2 separate regions of the Homo sapiens genome follow, and region 1 is linked to region 2. The links come from fine-mapping of genetic effects on gene expression. A gene starts in region 2. The other region holds a variant in brackets. All regions are shown on one strand. Distances are from middle to middle.

Region 1 (8,904 bases), 49 kb after region 2:
GATTCGTTTTTAATCCCTTAAAGATTTTGTCACTGAAAGTTTGGCAGGGGCAGGTAGTAAAGGAGCAGAACATTTGCCTAAATGATTAGCTCCAGAAAAAGATGCTAGGCACATTAAAGACAAGAACAGTATGAGAGCCCCAGTAACTTCAGCCCTGATCTCGGGTTCTAGCTAGGAGACCCTAGTGCCTCCTGGATGATCTCAGGTCACTGTACATTTCCCTCATTCTGACATTTAAAGGAAATTTCCCAAGCAGAATTCATCATTCAAATAAATAGCTAGTAATTAACAAGGGTTTAGGCATTTACTTGCTAAAAGTGAATGTAATTTAACAAAGGCATTTGTGCCAGTTCCGTCTTAGTTTGAGAGGAAGGTAATATTTGACTTAACTAAGATGTTATTTACATAAATGAGGGAAGAAATTGATATAGCGGACAAAAAATAAATAAAGAGTTTTATAAAAGACATTGACATGCAGCTTTGAGAGCCACATTTATTTTACAAGTAGCAGAAATCTAAAACTTGCTTCTAATAAGCTAGGGGGAAAACACTAAATGTGACAAAACTGTACCCTTTGGTACTCATAAATGATTAATAAATGAAACACAAACAGTCTGTGATGGATCAAAACTACAACAAAAGAAGCAAGCTACAAAAATGTTATGCTGCCATTGTTTATTTTAGTATTACAAAAGATAACTGCTAGCAGATTAGCTAATCTTCTTATAATTCATCCATGTACTGTTTGGATTTCATGTCATGGTCTTACATTTTATTTATAATTTTAATTGTACAGTTTTACAGTATATTACTTCAAATGTCTTGTGCATGTAAAAGACAGTATAGAGAAATATGCATAAATGAAAGTAATTGGGCCAGGCGCAGTGGCTCACGCCTGTAATCCCACACTTTGGGAGGCTGAAGCGGGTGAATCACCTGAGGTCAGACATTCAAGATCAGCCTGGCCAACATGGCGAAACCCCGTCTCTACTAAAAATACAAAAATTAGCCCAGTGTGGTGGGAGGCACCTGTAATCGCAGCTACTTGGGAGGCTGAGTCAGGAGAATCACTTGAACCTGGGAGGCAGAGATTGAAGTGAGCTGAGATCTGCCACTGCACTCCAGGCCTCCAGGCATGGGGTGACAGAGTGAGACTCCGTCTCCAAAAAAAAAAAAAAAAAAAAAAAAGAAAAGAAAGTAATTGTACGAGGGTAGTGAGATTGATTATAATTGACTTTTCAAGAGTTAATGACTGGGAATTTTCTAAACTTGGTAAAGAGTCAGAAATCCTGAGTCCCAAGTAGGATAAGTAAAAAGAAATCTACATTTAAGCAAATTCTAATAAAACTGCTTTAAAATCAAAATATAGAGAGATAAATGTTAAAATCATTCAGATTTTAAAAAACAAATCACTTTCAAAGGAGCAACAATTAGACTAATAGTGGATTTTCCAACAGAAATAATGGAAGCTAGAAGTCAAAGGAAGTAACATATTGATACTACAGAAATAAAATAGTTTTATACTGGGCAAAAATATCCTTCAGGAATAAAGTCAAGTAAAGACATTTTCAGGCAAATAAAAATAAAATAATTTGTTGCCAGCAGACTAGCAGTTAAGGAAATACCAAATGTACTTCTTCAGGCAGAAAGAAAATGGCCACATAAAGTCTGAAATGCAAGAAGTAATGAAGAGCAATGAAAATGTAAATATGTGGATATATCTAAGTGTATATAACTTTATTAAACAATAATAATTGTGTCATGGGGTAAAATAAAATACATGACAACAAAGGCATACAATTCTTAAGAAGGGAAAAGGAGGTAAGTGTCCTGAGCTTTTTGCATTACCCAGAGAGTAAAGGTGACAAGTAATGGTAGGCTTTAAGGAATCAAGAATATATACTGTAATCTCTAGTATAACTACTGAAAGAATAATAAAAGAACATATAATGGACCAATCCAGTAGACGGAGAATTAATATCAGACTTTAAGGCAAAACACATTATTAGAAATAAAGAATGATACTACATAATGATAAGATAATTTAATTAATCAAAAGATAATTTTAGATGTGTTTGCATTCAATAGGGTCTCAAAAATATATAAAGAAACATATAAAGAAAAAATTTACAGACCTACAAGGAGAAATAAACAAACTAGAGTCAATGATGAAATTGATTTTTAACACACTTCTCTCAGTAACTCTTATAACAAGCAGATAAAAGTAAGGATAGAGATATGAATTGATCTAATGAACACATATGTAGAATACTATATCTAACGAGGGCAGAATCAAATAAATTGTTCAGATCCTATGTGATAATGCAAGTCTCTACATATTTTAAAAGAATGAAATAATACAGAATATGTTCTCTGACCACAATACAACTAAGTTAGAAATCACTAACAAAAGGATTTTTTAAAAATCATGTTTGGAAATAAAGTACTATACCTTTATATAACACATGGGTCAAAAAAGAAATAAAAATATAAGTTAGAAATTATTTTCAAAGAATAATGAAAATATGACATATCAAAACGTTCAAGAAGTGCAAGGGGAACTTTATCATTTTAACTGTATACAGAGTACTATATAAAAAAAGGAAGGGCTTTAAAAATTGATGAGTTAAGAGTCTATCCAAGAAGACAGAAAAATAACAGTAAATTAAACTCAAAGAAAGCAGAGAGAAGGAAATAATAAAGTTAGAACATAAATTAATAAGATAAAATATATTGGATTCATCAGCTTCCTTGGTGAAACTGTTCAAGGAAAACAAGAAAAGAAACAACCAATGTCAGGAATGAAAAAGAAGACATTACTACAGGTCCCGCAGACCTACAAAATCATTAAAAAATGTTTTAAACAACTTTATAAAACAATATTTTAAAATATAAATAAAATGGATATATTCCTTGAAAAATACTTCAAGTAAAGGAACAGAATAGAGAATTTGAATAATCTCCAACTATTTTAAAAGTTAAATATATAATTTAGAATGTTACAATAAAGAAAACTCCAGGCTCAGATGGCTTCTAAGAAACATTCAAGGAAGAAATGGTAATCTTACACAAACCCTTTAAGAGTAGGGGAAAAACAGCTACCATTTGCCAACTCATATTAAGAGGCCAGAACAACTCTAATACAAAAGCTGAGAGGAAACTCCAATAAAGGAAAATTTCAGGCTAGTCTCATTCAAGAATTTAGATGCAAATATCCTGAAAATAAGATTAGCAGATTTACCCACTAACACTGAAATGACATGTGGGTGACGAACTCAGTCTCAGCTGGACAGCCAGAGCCACATTTTACCCACTCTTTTCTTCCTGAACTTCAGAAGATAGTCTATATTCAGTTTTTGGCAACTTTGTTAATAAACTGATATTGCCAAACCACATCTAGTAATATATAAAAAGGATAATCCATGTTGGACACATTCCAGAATGTAAGCTTGGGTTAAGATTTGAAAATCAATGCAATTCATCACATTAACAGAGTAAGAGAATCACATAATTATTTCAATTGATTTCAATAGATGATGTTAATAAAATTTAAATCAAATATATGCTAAAAACTCTTAGCAAACAAGGACTAGAAAGGAATTTTCTGAATCTGAAAAAAGATATCCCCCAAAAGGACCTTCAGCAAATATCATGCCTAATGGTGAAACACTGAAGCTTTCCCTCTGACACTGGGACCAAGACAAGGTGTATGAGCCCCCTAGGGCTGCTGTAACAAAGTGCCACAAACTGGGTGACTTCAAACAAGAGAAATGCATTGTCTCACAGTTCTGGAAACTAGCAGCTGAGATCAAGGTGTTGGCAAGGCCATGCTGTCTTTGAAGGCTCTAGGGGCAAATCCTTCCTTGCCTCTTCCTAGCTTCTGGGGGTTGCCAGCAATCTTTGGCATCCCTTGTCTTGTAGATACAGCACTCCAATCTCTGCCTCCATCCTCATATGGTGTTCTCTGTGCGTGTGTCTGTGTCTGTTCCCTTTTTATGAGGACACAAGTCATATTAGAGTAGGGCAAACCCTACTCCAGTATGATTTCATCTTAACTTGATTACGTCTGCAAAGGCAGTCCAAATAAGGTCACATTCACAGATACCAAGGTTTAGGACTTCAATATATCTTTTTGGAGGATAATTCAGTCTACAATACAAGGACTCCCACTGTTGCCACTTCCTTTTGTACTGCAGATCCCAGCCAGTGTAAAAAGGCCAAAAAAGAAATACAAAATGTAAAGATTAGAAAAGAAGAAATAAAACTGTCATTATTCATGGATGACATAATTGTCTATGGAGAAAATCCTAAACAATTCACAGATAAATTATTAGAATATGTTTAACAAGGTTGGTATATACAAAGTTAATATATAAATTAATTTTACTACAATACATGACAATAGCATAAAAAAACACTTAGAAATCAAACTAATAAAATACGTGTAAGACCTCTGGGCAGAAAGCTATAAAATCTTATTGAGAGAAACCAAAGAAGACTTAAATATGCTATGTTCATGAATTAGAAGACTCAATATTGTAAATTTGCCAAGTCTTAAATGGTCTACAGATGCAGTGCAATCCCCATCAAAATCTCAGTGTGTGGAAACTGACAGGCTGATTCTCAAGTTATATGGACATGGAAAAGCTCAAGAACAGCCAAGAATTTGTTGAACAAAGCTAAGAGGGTATGTATTACTGAATATGAAGAGTTATTATAAAGCTATTTTAATGAAGACAATGTAGTATTGGCACAAAGACAGACAAATAGGCCAATGGGACAGATAGGGTGCCCACAAACACACCTATGCATACATGGGCACTTGCTCTGTGACAGAAGAACAGTATGGAGCGGTGAGTTAAAGGGGAGAATTTTCAATAAACTGTACTGAAATAAATGAATATTCTTATGAAAAAAATGAATTTGCTTCCTACTTTGTATTAGCCACCAAAATAGTTATATGCAAAAATATAGATGAATTTCACAAAAATTTAAGCAAAAAGAAATACATACGGTAATACCCTATTCAAATAAAATTAAAACAAAATTAAACTATAGTACAAGAAAAGTCAGGATTGCAGTTAATTTGGGCAGAAAAAAGTGTTTGTAACTGGCAGAGGGTATAAGAGGAGTTTCTAGGGAGCTGGGAAAGATTTCATTTCTTTGCCTAGAGGGTGAGATGGTGGTAGCATAAAAAGTAGTTGGACACATTCATTCATTCAACAAATAGTTATTGAGAAATCACTATATATCAGGCATTGCACTAGATCTGGGTCATCAAAGGGGAATAAATATAGGCCTGATCCCTGCCCTGGCCCTGCTTACTTCTGATAGCAGACAGACAAAAACAATTAATGAACACAGATAAATATATACAATCACCTCACAGTCACCTCGTAGGGTAAGTGCTCTGAGAGATACCCTTGTCTTGCTACACAAGGGGGACTCTTTCCTTATTGGGGGTGGGGATGAAGAGGAAAGCCATTAGGTCTTTCACTGGACTGAATCATAAAAATAGCTCAGAATTGCATTTCTCCTTTTTCTCACCCCAAAGAAGTAGTGGTTACTCCTTTTATCTCTAATGGTTCCAATGTCATTTTAGATCTACACTTAGGTACACCTAGGAATCCCATCTGACATTTAGAAATTCCATCTCTTAATCCGAGGAAAATCTTGGCTTGAAAGTAATGGCACCAGCCCCTTAAAATGGCACCTATGTGCGAATACCACTAATTTTTAGTTAATTTTAGGGCTGTTACTCTAAAACAAAAAAGTTCTTTTGAAATTCTAATTCAAAAAGCAATGAGTTTTAAAATAACCCTTTCCATGTTATAAAATACTTATATGCTCATTGTAGAACATCTGGGAAATCAGAAAACTGTAAAAAAA[A/T]TTTTTTTAAACCCTCAAAAATCCATAAGTCTATCAATAGCTATCAATTCTATCTATAGCTACTGTAAACGTTGTGGTACATCTCTTTCAATATTTAAGTGCCTTGATATATTTATTTTCACGGTTGAGATCAGAATTTGTGGTTTTGCAACCCGAATTTTCCATTTAAAAATATAATAAGAACTTACTTCCCCAGTCATTAATCTTCCTAAACATAATTCTTAAGTTTGTAAAAAATCCATCCTACAGATACACCTAAAAGTCAGTTTATTTACTTTGTTTCCCCAGGAAAGAATCCTACATGACCATGGTTCTGGGCCTGTGTAAGTGCTGCCTTGTGAACAGTGTAGATAAGATCACAGAATCATCCTCCAAATAAAGTACTTAAAGCCAATGTAAAAGTTTTTCGAAGGCAAAGGGGCACTGTGAATCCAGCATTTTCCAGTGTTCCCTAGACGTGAATCATCTCAAAGAGAGGCCATTATTCGAGTGCAACAGGGCTCCACGCCTCCAGCGATGTCAAAGTTCTGCTAAGCGTCCAAAACCTAGCAAAAGGTTCCAATGGGCCATTGGAACTCGGCGGCCGCGGCGGAGGCTGCTCCCAAGGCGGCAGCAATCACACCGGGACCGGCTGCAGAGTTCCCAGTCCCGCGGAGCGCTAGCTGCCGGGCGGACGCGGAAGCCCGAGAGTCCTGGTCTTCCCGTCCAAGTTTAATCCGCGCCTACGCGGTAAATTCCTGGAGGTGCTCCCAGCCTAGCCCGCTGCGCCCGGCTCCGCGCCTGGGCAACCCGGGCTCCCTCCCGTCCCTGGCGCCCTCCGCACCCGCCTAAGGCGCGGCGGTCGAGCCCTGGCTGCGCCCTGTGGGCGCGCTCCTCCGAATCCCAAGTTCGGGTCGCGAGTCTGAACTTGGGAGGAACGCGCCCCGGGTCCCCGCCCTTCCCGGACTGCCCGATCCCCATCCCCCGCAACCGGGAGCGCGCAGGCGCAGCCGGCCGGCAGTCCCGTCAGCTGTCCCAGAGCCTGTGTCGCGCCCGTGCCGGTAGCGCCCGTGCCGGTAGCGCCGCTGCCACCGCTCACCATGGGCCCGGGTCCTCGGCTGCTGCTACCTCTCGTGCTTTGCGTGGGGCTCGGCGCACTTGTGTTTTCTTCGGGGGCCGAGGGCTTCCGCAAGCGAGGCCCCTCGGTGACGGCCAAGGTGACCGAGAGCGGCGGGCTGCAACTTCCCCTGTTGCGGGCGGGGCCCTGGGGGCGCTTTGGATACTGGGACCTCGGTGTCAGGGCGGGCGAGGTGGAGGCTTCCCGGGCGCAGGGGGACTGGAGGCGGCCGCGGGACTGGGTGGGAGGGGGCTGCTCGCGTGCTGGGAGGCCGGCGCTCCGGGGGAGACCCTGGGGGAGCTGGGCTGAGGCCAGCCTACCTCCGCCGCAGTCTGCTTGGACTTCTTGTCCCGGGTCGGTAGTCCGAGGTGACCAGCCTGGGGGTAGGAGAGGCTTCCGGAACCGGCGGGCCCGTTCTCCAGGAAAGAGACTGCCCAAGTACTTCCTTCAGCGTGGCCTGGGCTCGGGAGCAGAACGAGAGGAATGCGGGGAGGGGGGCGGGACCCGCACAGGAGAGGCGCTCGGAGCCCAGGGCTTGCAGCCGCCCGCCCGCTGCGTGGTCTCCACGCTGGCCGCGGTGGCTTCAGGCAGGCATTAAAGCGCCTGGTTCAGATGAGAGACTACCCTCCGCCTCTTTTGGGGAACCGTCGTCCTTCCCGGGAAGGGGAGGTGCGCCTTCAACTTCGGCGGGCGGGCGGCCCCTGCTGTGGGCTACGCGAGGCCGGGCGAAGGCGGCACCTGTAGACCTGGGGCAGCCTCCACTGCGGGGAAAGGGGGCGGGGGGCTGCCAGAAAGTGCGTCTTTAAGGCTTCCTCGTACTTAACTCCGCTTCAGTTCTTTTTTCAGCGTATTTAACCAAGGGTAGACGATAATGGGAGAATGCAGGGAGAGGGAGGGGATAATTTGGTGCCCATGATCACCACTTCTAGAAAACCCACTGGCAATAGTGTCTTCGAAGCTGAAGCTGGAGGGGGCGGGCTGCAGCTGAAAGTGGTCTTCATCAGTCTGGGGTTTGTCAATGGAAACGATACTAATCAACGAGTAGAATGCTTACATCCTCGACCGCAGACGCCACCTGAGGACGGGGAGGACTAGGGGGTGGGGAGGAGGAGGTCCAGCTCAGCATCTGATGTCGCAGAAAGGCCGTGCCACGTTGTGGGCGGGGCTGATAAACAGCCTGATGGTTTCGAGAAGCTCTGATCTTACTCCCAGCCTCTTGATCTTGTAGGCATGTCTAACTTTGGGAAATGGTTTGTGCAAGGCCACAGAGCTGAACGGGGTCTCTTGGGATAAAGCCATAAACATAAAATTCGCACAATTATGAAATGTTGGAGGAAATAAACTGTAATATACTTTGGGTGACATTTAAAAATAGCTGAAAAATGAGAAAAACCAGCGCAGAGAAGACTAAGGAGGCAAAGGGAACTGCATATGCATAGGTCCTCAAACAGGAAAGCCCTCCCTGCATTCAGAGGATGTGGAGAGGACGGAATGGCTTCAGCACAGAATGAGAGGTGACTTGAGATGAGGTTGGAGGGGTGAGCAGCAGCGGAATCACACAGGGCCTTAGAGGCTGCAGGTAGGCATGCGGGTATTGAGGCAATTCTTAAAATTTGAAGTGTTATTCTGCAGTCAGAGCCACTGAAGGGTTTTAAGCATAAGAATGGCATGATCTCAATATATACTCGAGAAATTTATGTGGTCACTCAGTGGAGAGTGAAATGGGAGGTCATTCAGGGCACCATGCCAGAGTCCAGATGGTGGCTTGGATTAGGGTGGTAATCATTGAAATGGGGAGCAAGGGAAGGACTTGAAATAGATTTTGGAGATATAACTAACAGGAGTTGCTGACGGTTTAGAAAGGGGGCGAGGGAGAGGGAATAGGATTGCCAAATAAAATACAGGATGCCCAGTTAGAT
Region 2 (8,834 bases):
CATACCTTTTCCAAGGCAGTTTAAAAATCTTTTTATTTCATAATTTAAAATACTTGCTTCAAAAACACACATTCAAGAAATTCAGTAGGAGATAAGTATTTTTTGAAATCTGTTGGGAGAGTATAATGTTGTAAAACTTTCTGAAACTCTGAAATACAAGTCTTCTCAACTGCACAGCAAAATTAGAGTTGAAACCACTATTTTAAGCCAGTGCTTTACTCTCAAACTTCATAAAGAAAAAAGTAAATACGATTGCTCTTTCTGTTGGTAATTATTATCTCCATCACAGCTATGTCCAACATAATGAAAATATTCATAGACCTCAACCACGAGGCAGTTGCCCAGTGTTTTTTTTTTCATCAAATCAACGACTTAGGGAATCCTTTAAAGAGCTATAACTGAACTTATTTTGCTTTTACAACGAATTAAGAAGTTCACAGAGCGGTAGACATTTTGCAAGAAGCAACTTATTCAAAATTGAATAAAAATAAATGTTTTAAATTAACTTTACTCATACAGAAGCCAGACGAAGGAATGAGATGAAGAAAATAGCTGAATGAATGCTGATCTTTCAAATCCTGTATTGCTTTCAATCTGACGCTCTTAACACACTTTAATGTTATCTCCAGAAGTCTCTGGGAGCACGTTTAACACTCCCAACACAGTATAGGTGTAAACACAGTATAACTTCTGAAATTATCAAAAAGAAGCAGGTATAAAGCAGTACATATTGCTTGATCTTCATTTAGAGTTTTGCTTCAAAACCGCCAAATGGAACTGTACTTGTGATAAGCGTTTCAAATTGTGAATATAGAAACCGAAGCTACAGGAATTCTGATGTTTAGTTAGGCATTTGCTATTAACTTGGAGGAAGAGGGGAGTAAGCGTCTTTTACTAAATTACAGTCACCCTAATTTCTAAAAATAAATACATAAACCAACATGGGTTATGAATGTTTGCGGGGTCAAAGGTGCGCGGATAAAGCGGGATCAGCGGAATCGGAGGAGAACAGAAATTTTCTTCTCAGTAAGTAGCAGTCATTTTTTTTTCTTTTCCTTCTTTTTAAATGAATAGTAGATCTAAGAATACTGCCTGCCTTCAAGGAGAAACGGACTCAGTTTCATCTAAAATTCCTACTCCAGTGAGGCCTGGCCAGCGAACAGCTCCCGCCGGTTCCCCCACAACCCCGCGGCCCGAAAATGACCCCTCCAGAGGTGGGGTGGAGAGTAGCAAAAACAAGCCCTGGTCTGCGTGCTCCCCAGAGACGCTGAGGGTCCCTCCCTCGTCCCGGCTAAGGCCAGGCAGGGCCTGACCCAGACACCCCCTGTCACACGCTGCCAGTACCCGCCTGGCCCCGGGCACTGTCCGGCGGGAGGGCAGAGGTCTGTTAGGCCGGGTCCACGGTAGACTCCGGCCCCAAACACTTGGGACTGTGAAGCAGGTGAGGAGAGGGAGGGAGAGGGAACCCCAAAGTGCCACCGGCCGTCCCATCCGTTCTCTTTCCTTCTCCAACGCCAGAAAACTTTTGTCACAGAGATCGGGGAGGCGCGGGCCAGCGGCCAGGACCAGGTGCTCCCCACCCACCCGGCCCCGTGTCACTCCTATCCGACCCGCCTCCCTGACAGGCACCCGCGCCCGCCGGCGCCGGCGCCGGCGCCCCGGGAGAGAGCGCGCGGGCTGCGGCTACGTACGGTTGTTGGGGTCGCTGGTGTGCTGGTTGAGCGGGATGATCTCCATGCGCTGCTGGCCATACAGGTAATAGTCCAGCTCCTCTGCGCTGCAGCGGAAGCGCGGGGCGCCGCGACCCTCCCCGCCGCCGCCGCCACCACCACCGCACTTGACGGGCCCGGGGCCGGAGGTGGCGCCGAGGCACAGTTCCTTGGGGGGCAGCGGCTCGGCGGCGACGGCAGCGGCGGCTAGAGGCGCGAACACCGGCAGCTGCGACACCGGCAGGGCCGAGAGACCAGCCAGCGCGGCGGCAGCGGCCGCAGCAGCGCAGGAGGAGGCGGAGGAGGCGGAGGTGGAAGAGGAAGCCGGCGTGGACGAGGCGGAGGAGAGAGAGGCGGGCCGCGGGCGCAGGCTGTCCGGCGGAGGCTCAGCGCGCTCCGGGGGCGGGGGCGGCGGCGGCGGCTGAAGAGGCTGCGGCGCGCTCAGGAGACCCGCGGCGCCGCTGCCCTTGAGCGGGCCTGCGCCTCCGTGAGGGAAGAGTTGCTGCCAGTGCTGCAGGTAGGCTGGGTCCACTTTGAGGAAGGCCGAACCGCCGGGGTCTCCGGGCTTCAGCATGTCCGGCGCCTCGAACTGGGGGCAGAGGGCAGGGAAGAGGGGGCGCGTGAGCTGGGCGAAAGGGGCCGGGAAGAGGGCCACTGGGACCCTGGAGAAAGTGCCCGAGCCGGTGGTTCAGCCGGCGGCCGCCCGGTTCCGCGGCTCCCTCTTCCCAACTCCGCTTGGGCGCAAAGTTTACTCCGAAGCTGCGGCGCCGCACAGAGGGAGCTGTGTGCACCCTGCTCTGCCTCCCCGATCGCAGCGTCCAGCTCCCATCCAGCAATGCTGGGGCCCGACAGGAGGGCGCTGCCCCGTAGAACTCGGCTGCAGGACGCAGCCCCCGCCCTCAGCCAGCGCCCGGAGCCGACCCGAGCCGGCGTGGCGCAGCGCCCGAGCCGCGTTGGCCTCAGGCGCCAGGAGGCAGAACAGTCTCGCCGCCCGCCCCCAACCTAGGACCACCAACCTTCCTATCTACCAAGCCCTAGACTCTTAAGTCCCAGACCAGCCTCACCTTACCTGAAAACTCGGTGCTGCCGGTGGGTGCGTGCGGGTGTCTCGGTGAGCGTGCGGGTGCGCGAGAGTGTGCGCCCTGCGTGCGCTACATGCCCCTGAGCAGCGCGGGAGGAGAGTCCTAGAGATTGTGCCGCCCGGAAACCTCCCGACCTGCAAGCGAGAAAATTGGGAGGCCCGCGGAGGGCGCGAGAGTGCGGACGGACCTGGGCGCCCGACTCAACCGCCGTGGGCTGCTGCGCTTGGCCGCTGCCGCGTCCTGGCTCCTTGGTTCCACGCTCTGGCAGCTTCCCGGCTGGACACGTGGGTTTTACGACAGCACAAAATAGAGTGAGTGTGTGTGTGTGTGTGTGTGTGTGTGTGTGTGTGTGTGTGTGTGTGTGTGTGTGTGTGTGTGTGAGAGAGAGAGAGAGAGAGAGAGAGAGAGAGAGAGAGAGAGAGAGAGAGAACGGAGGGGGGAGGGGAGGCAGGCCAGAAGAAGGGGAGGGGAGAGGGAAGAAGGAAGTTCTAATTCGGCCCGACCCACATCGCCAGAGCGCCTTTCCCGCACAAACTCCTCCGCCCTCCCATCCCCTGTTTTTTTGGCGTGACGTCTGCCGCTAGCCTGTTGTCTCTTTCTGCCCATGATATGTCTTTTCTGGGTCCCAGCTCAGTGCCCTGATCTTGAAAGCAGTGGAAATGCGGCAACGGGAATGCATCTCCGCACACGCTGTGGTGTCCGCGCTGGAGCAAGCCCGCGCCGCCAGGACCGGGTTTGCGCTTTTGCCCGGCTCAGTTTTTCCTGAAGTGCTTCTGGGTGCCAGAGTCCACTCGCCCGCCACGCAACCTCTAACATAAATCCTCCGGGGAGAAAAGTTGGGGGCGGAGCGGGACGGGTTGCGCGCTGCAGTGAAACCCTCTGTCTGCAGCCCAGGAGGGAGGCTTGTCGGTGCAGGGAGGCGTAGGACCGAGGGTCCTGAGACCGAGAGCAGCTGGTCCTGGAGGGACTCAAGCTTGGCCGTGGGGCTGGGAGGCGGCTGCAATGGAGTCTGCACTCCACCCAGCGCTCTGCTGACCCCTTCTCGGGTTGTCTTCTGGAGGGCTCTTTCCCTCTCCTTCTTGGGGCCCGGAGACAAGTATCCAGTGTTACGTCTGGTGGCACAACTGCTCCGGGACACGGGCGAGGCTGTTTGCGGTCAGCTGCCTGCGGCTGCCGCAGGAGGTCACGCATAGGTTTCTCTACCCAAAACCTGGTGTTAGAGGGGCAGGGTGGGAGTGCAGCCCCACCTCCACCATGTCCTCTCCCCAGACTTTGTGCCAGGGCAGCCCTTCGATGCAGTCTCGCACCCACGAAGGAGGCACTTGCCCCCCAGCTCTTCCTGGCATTTTCGGTAGTAGATGGTAGAGGGCACAGGCAGGGTGTGTGAAATTGACCGACTCAGGAGGTACTTTCCCATCGCCGGGGTTCTGGCCATACCGTAAAGAGAAGAAACGGCATTTATCTTTTTCCAAACAACCTAACTTATTTAGCACTTGCCAATCTGAGCAATTAATAGCCATTCTTTCCTGATTTCTGCTTGTTTCTTTTTCTCTTCCCACCACTCAAGTTTTCTGAACCTGGGAAACGTGCTGTTCAGACTTCATCCGGGTCTCATTCAGGATGCTTCGATGTTGGTTGGAAGAGAGTTAGACCGAAAATGTTTTGACTGGCGTCGTTATGACAAGGTCATCCGTCATTGTTGGATAGATTGATAGCACCCAAGTTTAAGGCAGACACCACGAGGGAAAGCCCACGGCGCTGTGGTCCCGGAGGCTAACCAGGCAGTGTCCGCAGACCTCCAGCAACTCCATCGGGAGGAGAGGATGAAGTTCCAGGCCCGTTTCAATTAATCTGCTCGCAGAACTGCCGAAGAGTGGCTTGTCGGGCCACGGGAGAAGAAACAAATGCTCTTTCTCACACTCTCCTGGTTCATTGCTGAGAAACCAGGACACTCCTCTGTTCCCTGGGAGAGACAGTGAACTCCAGGGATGGAAGTCCGGACTCCGGCGGCGGTCCCGTCATTTGCCTTCTTGTTTCTGCCCAAACCCAGCTAGTTCCAAGCGCTTGGTCCCCAAGACTGGAAGTCCCCAAGAACCTACCTCTACCTGTCCCAACCCTGCCTCCCCCCTACCCTTTCACCCCCTGCCACCATTAGAAAGTCTCTGGATTTTGAAATGCTAGTTGCAGCAGCTGCTTCCGTGGCCTCATGCCGCCCACACTCTGGGAAGCGGAGGAGGGAGGGTTCCTCTCGTAATAAGATTAGCTGACCTGTTAATGAGAGTTTTGGACGTGCCGGGCGGGGGTAGGCGCTTTATGTCCATTTAATCCACCTACATGCGGAGAAGGCATTATCATTAACCCCCATATTGTAGATGGGGACCGCTGAGGTTCGGAAAGTTTAGATGGGTTGCCTAAGGTCACGCCATTAATGAGTAATGGAGACGGATTCAAATACCGTTCGGTAAGGTGCCAAGTGCATCTTCTGCCTACCCTAGTCCAACCTGTAGCCACTCGGTCCAGACTGACGCCAGAGGGGCTATCATGGGAGAGATTTGGTTCCCCTCGCTGCGGGGTCCAGGGAAGAAGCTGAGAAGGTAGCAAAGTCCCCCTCGCCCACTACGTCTACAGGTGGCGTACCTGGGTAATCCGATTCAAGCTTCCGCCACACCCACCCCGGGCACAAGTCGATCCCGAGGCTTACGGGACCCTAAGGCCCAGAGGCTACAGGAACCTCCCGTGAAGGGGGCAGGAGAAAGTTTGAGGGAGAGCCCTGAAGGTCCGGGAGCGAACGAAAAAGTCTGGAAGGGAATAGACCAGGAGTCAGGACCTCCCCTGCACCTCCCCAGCAGGCCCACTGCGCCGAGCGGGGCCCCTGCCTCCACCGCGGCTTCCGGGATGCCCGCAGAGCTCGGCATCCTCACCCGGTGCGCACAAGGGCGCGCAGCGGCGTAAGCTGGACCCCCGACGCTGCGCGCGCTCTGAGGGGCGCTTCCCCCTCACACAGTTGACCCTGGGCCCGCTTGGTCACGGCCACCCTGGCGCATCTCAATAGTTTTTAGAAAGTGAGCCCACCGACGGCAAGGACATGCACCCCCTCAAATCCGCTTCCCCCACCCCCTTCAATACTGAGAAGACCACGGAAACAAATCACTTCGACCACTTAGAAAGCGATCAAACCTTTATAAAAATCCATCGCTCCCAAATCGATGGGTGAATATTTGCTGGGAATTTGTTCCAGAGGAATAAATGAGGAGCCTTGAGTGTATTAAATGCAAACGGGGGGACACGGTGGTGTTTTTCTTCATTGATTAATGACCTCTAAAATAAAACAAGTGGGAAGAGGAGCCAGGATCGATAAATTACCCAAATTCATCATTTTCTCGAGCATTTTCGCCCCGAAAATTATCCTTGGGAAGCCCATTGTACCCTGAGCTGGGAGGGGAAGGATGTAGCTGGAGGCCAGGGTAGGGAGGGAGCAGCAGAAGGGGTAGGAGGAGAGAAGGGGGTTCTGTCCAGGAGACCCTCTATCTGATTCCGTTTAACATACAATTCAAAAGTTTGCCTTTCATATTATTTTTTCTTGATGGGGGAGTGGAACAAATGGTCGGTTGCCTTTGACAGGACTCCAATAAAGGATTCAGCAGCTCTCCGCTCTGCCCTGGGTGCTCCTGCTTCTAGTAGGTTTAAGGTCACGGGTGGCTGAGTTAATAATTCATTAATATAGACATTTATTCAGAAGGGTTCGCTGAGATCCACTCTTCCTGCCTCCTCCCAGAGATTTGTTTTCCTAGGAAATGGATGGGGGTGGGGGGTGGGCTGCAGGTGAAAGGAGGGGGGCGGGAGGAGAAGGAAAGGCTGGATGTAGCTAGGAGGAATCTTTGCTGAGCCGTATTAGCAGACAGGTCCCTTGAGCCTGCCAGCAAAAACTTGGTTGAAAATGTGGTATCTAAACAGCACAGAGACTCTGGCCTGCGGTGGCCCTTTTTCCTTCCATACCTGTTCATTCGCTTGTTTAGAAAGCTCCTTTCCTCCATGGTTTGGGACCAGGGAGGAGCCTTCTCACTGAGGATCTTGGATTGCAGGCAAAAGGGAAAGCTGTGAGAAAAAAACAGGACCCCACCCCCATCCCTATGAGGTTCCCAAGGGAGGAGCTTTGAAACTTGCCCAGACTTGGAATCTAAGGGAACCTCCTCTCCTGAGGGCACAGGCAACTTTTGGAGGACACTCCACCCCTCAGAAATGGGATCATGGAGAAGGGGGTTGGAGGCGGAGACTGAAAGTAAATAGTAAGTAATAAATCAGTAATGGTTAGATGGGAATAAGTGCTATGGAAAGCAATAAAGGATAGAGGGAAAGGGAGTGCATGTAGGTGGAAGGAGTTACTGTTTTACATATAGTGGCCAGGGAAAGCTTCTGTTAGAAAGTGAAATTTAAATAGAGACTTGAAGCAAGAAGATGCCAGTTTTCTGTCCAGAGCGGGATATTCCCTGCCCTAACCTATAGCCAGTGGCTAAAGCAGTAAAAGGGGCCTCTCCTGAAGAACTGTCAAGGATTTGCCTCCTCGCTACTGGCCACACTTGCTTCCCTTAAGCTGCTGTGTACTACTCGATATTCTTTCAGTACCTCCATTGACTGTTCTCATCAATTGGAGTCGCCTAACTTGCTGGTAACTTAGACCCTGACACGGTGACCGACCTCCAACTATCTGGACCTCAATTTCTTCAACAGTCCAAAGAAGAGGCAGGACAAATGCAGTGTTCTGTCCTAAGCTTTTATGAAGCAGCTACCGAATTCTGACCTCCCCACCCTATTACATATTTTATACCCTACTCCTGCATGCTGTGAGTCTAAGATGAGCAGGGTGTAAAATGTATTGCCCAACTAAAAACTAGAAAACCCTCACCATTAATTTTAATCACTGCAGTCTGCCCGTTGATCCCTTTGCATCTTCACTTGTTCATCCTTACTTAGTGACAGAAGACAGCGCCAGCCACCATTGGAAAGAAAGGGTGCGAGGAGTGAGGCAGAGGAGATAGAAGGCAGTGAAATGCTTAGCACACAGAAGCCAGCTCTGGCCTCAGGTGATGCAGCAGGTGCCTCGCCATTCATCTGACATACCCTCCTCTTCTGAGGCCTTGGCAATTTAGACATGTCCTTCCCTCAGCTTTCCTCCTCTCACAAAAGTACTTGGAAGTTCAGCTCCTCACTTTGCCAGGTCAAAAATGGCCTCTGGGTCCGGGAGACCAAGCCCAGGAGATTTGTGACCACTCTCTTTCATCCTCCGCCAGGACCCTGGCAGACAGCACCTATTCACGTTACTTGAAATGCAGCCGAAGCCTCCAGTTCCTTTCACCCTGGTCACCCAACAGCTGCCAGTCAAATGATGCCTCTCAGCCACCTCAGGCCTGATTTGGATTTGACCTACTGACCTTGAGGTGAAAGGCTCTGCAGTCCATTATGAATCCCTGGGGCCAGTTCATTCTCCCAGGAAAGCCTCTAAATATATCCTTTCCGTTTGCAGGGAAATCAGCTATTATAATTTGCAAAGGTCTCGTGAGTTTAAAACATATTGGTGGCAGTTCAGTCCCATAAAGATTTAATGAATAGCAACTGGGTGAAAAACAACTCCTTTTTTTTTTTTTTTTGTCTTGACAAGTCAAGGAAAAGAGAAATGATTAGACAAGAATAGCTATCCCTTCAGAAACTCACAAATTCCCTTCACTATCTCCTTCCCATCCCACCCTTTCCCCAGGAATTTAATCTTATATTTTTCCAAGTATCTGTAAGAATAGACAAACCCAATTATAGTTACCTACAATTTAACAGCTGTACAGAATATCTAATGAACACATACTGTGTGCACGAGACTATTGGTAGGGATCTCTGGGACAATCTTCTTTGAAGCTCTTCTAGCAAATGCTACCTGGTTCAGACACAGTCTTCTGTTGGTCACCAGATTGTTGCTTAAATTAGTTGAAGCTTATAGGACTTCAGTCATAACCAGGATGAGGTAAGCATGTTACAGTACATCTGTTCGAATTAG

Alleles and levels. Alleles are on the strand shown, and positions count from the first base shown. SD is a standard deviation of normalised expression in the study named.
With allele T in place of A in region 1, the expression in thyroid of the gene that starts at base 3,057 in region 2 is higher (small effect, 0.28 SD a copy in GTEx).

Evidence for each region. PIP is the estimated chance that this variant, and not a neighbour inherited with it, causes the effect.
Region 1: its variant is fine-mapped to the expression of PRDM6 in thyroid (GTEx, PIP above 0.99).

The regions. Positions count from the first base shown.
Region 1 is chr5:123,034,690-123,043,593 of GRCh38, reverse strand. PPIC (peptidylprolyl isomerase C) reads left to right here and starts at 6,869. Exons shown (of 5, transcript NM_000943.5): 1 at 6,869-7,085. The coding sequence starts at 6,969. PPIC-AS1 (PPIC antisense RNA 1) reads right to left here and starts at 7,672. Exons shown (of 2, transcript XR_001742868.2): 1 at 7,306-7,672. RefSeq lists silencers at 6,643-6,692, 8,001-8,173. The variant A/T (reference allele first, on the strand shown) is at 5,890.
Region 2 is chr5:123,083,464-123,092,297 of GRCh38, reverse strand. It overlaps PRDM6 (PR/SET domain 6), which reads right to left and starts at 3,057. Exons shown (of 8, transcript NM_001136239.4): 1 at 2,779-3,057; 2 at 1,692-2,298. The coding sequence starts at 2,283. It overlaps PRDM6-AS1 (PRDM6 antisense RNA 1), which reads left to right and starts at 1,982. Exons shown (of 2, transcript NR_146771.1): 1 at 1,982-2,226; 2 at 4,359-6,067. RefSeq lists enhancers at 3,318-3,862, 3,863-4,407.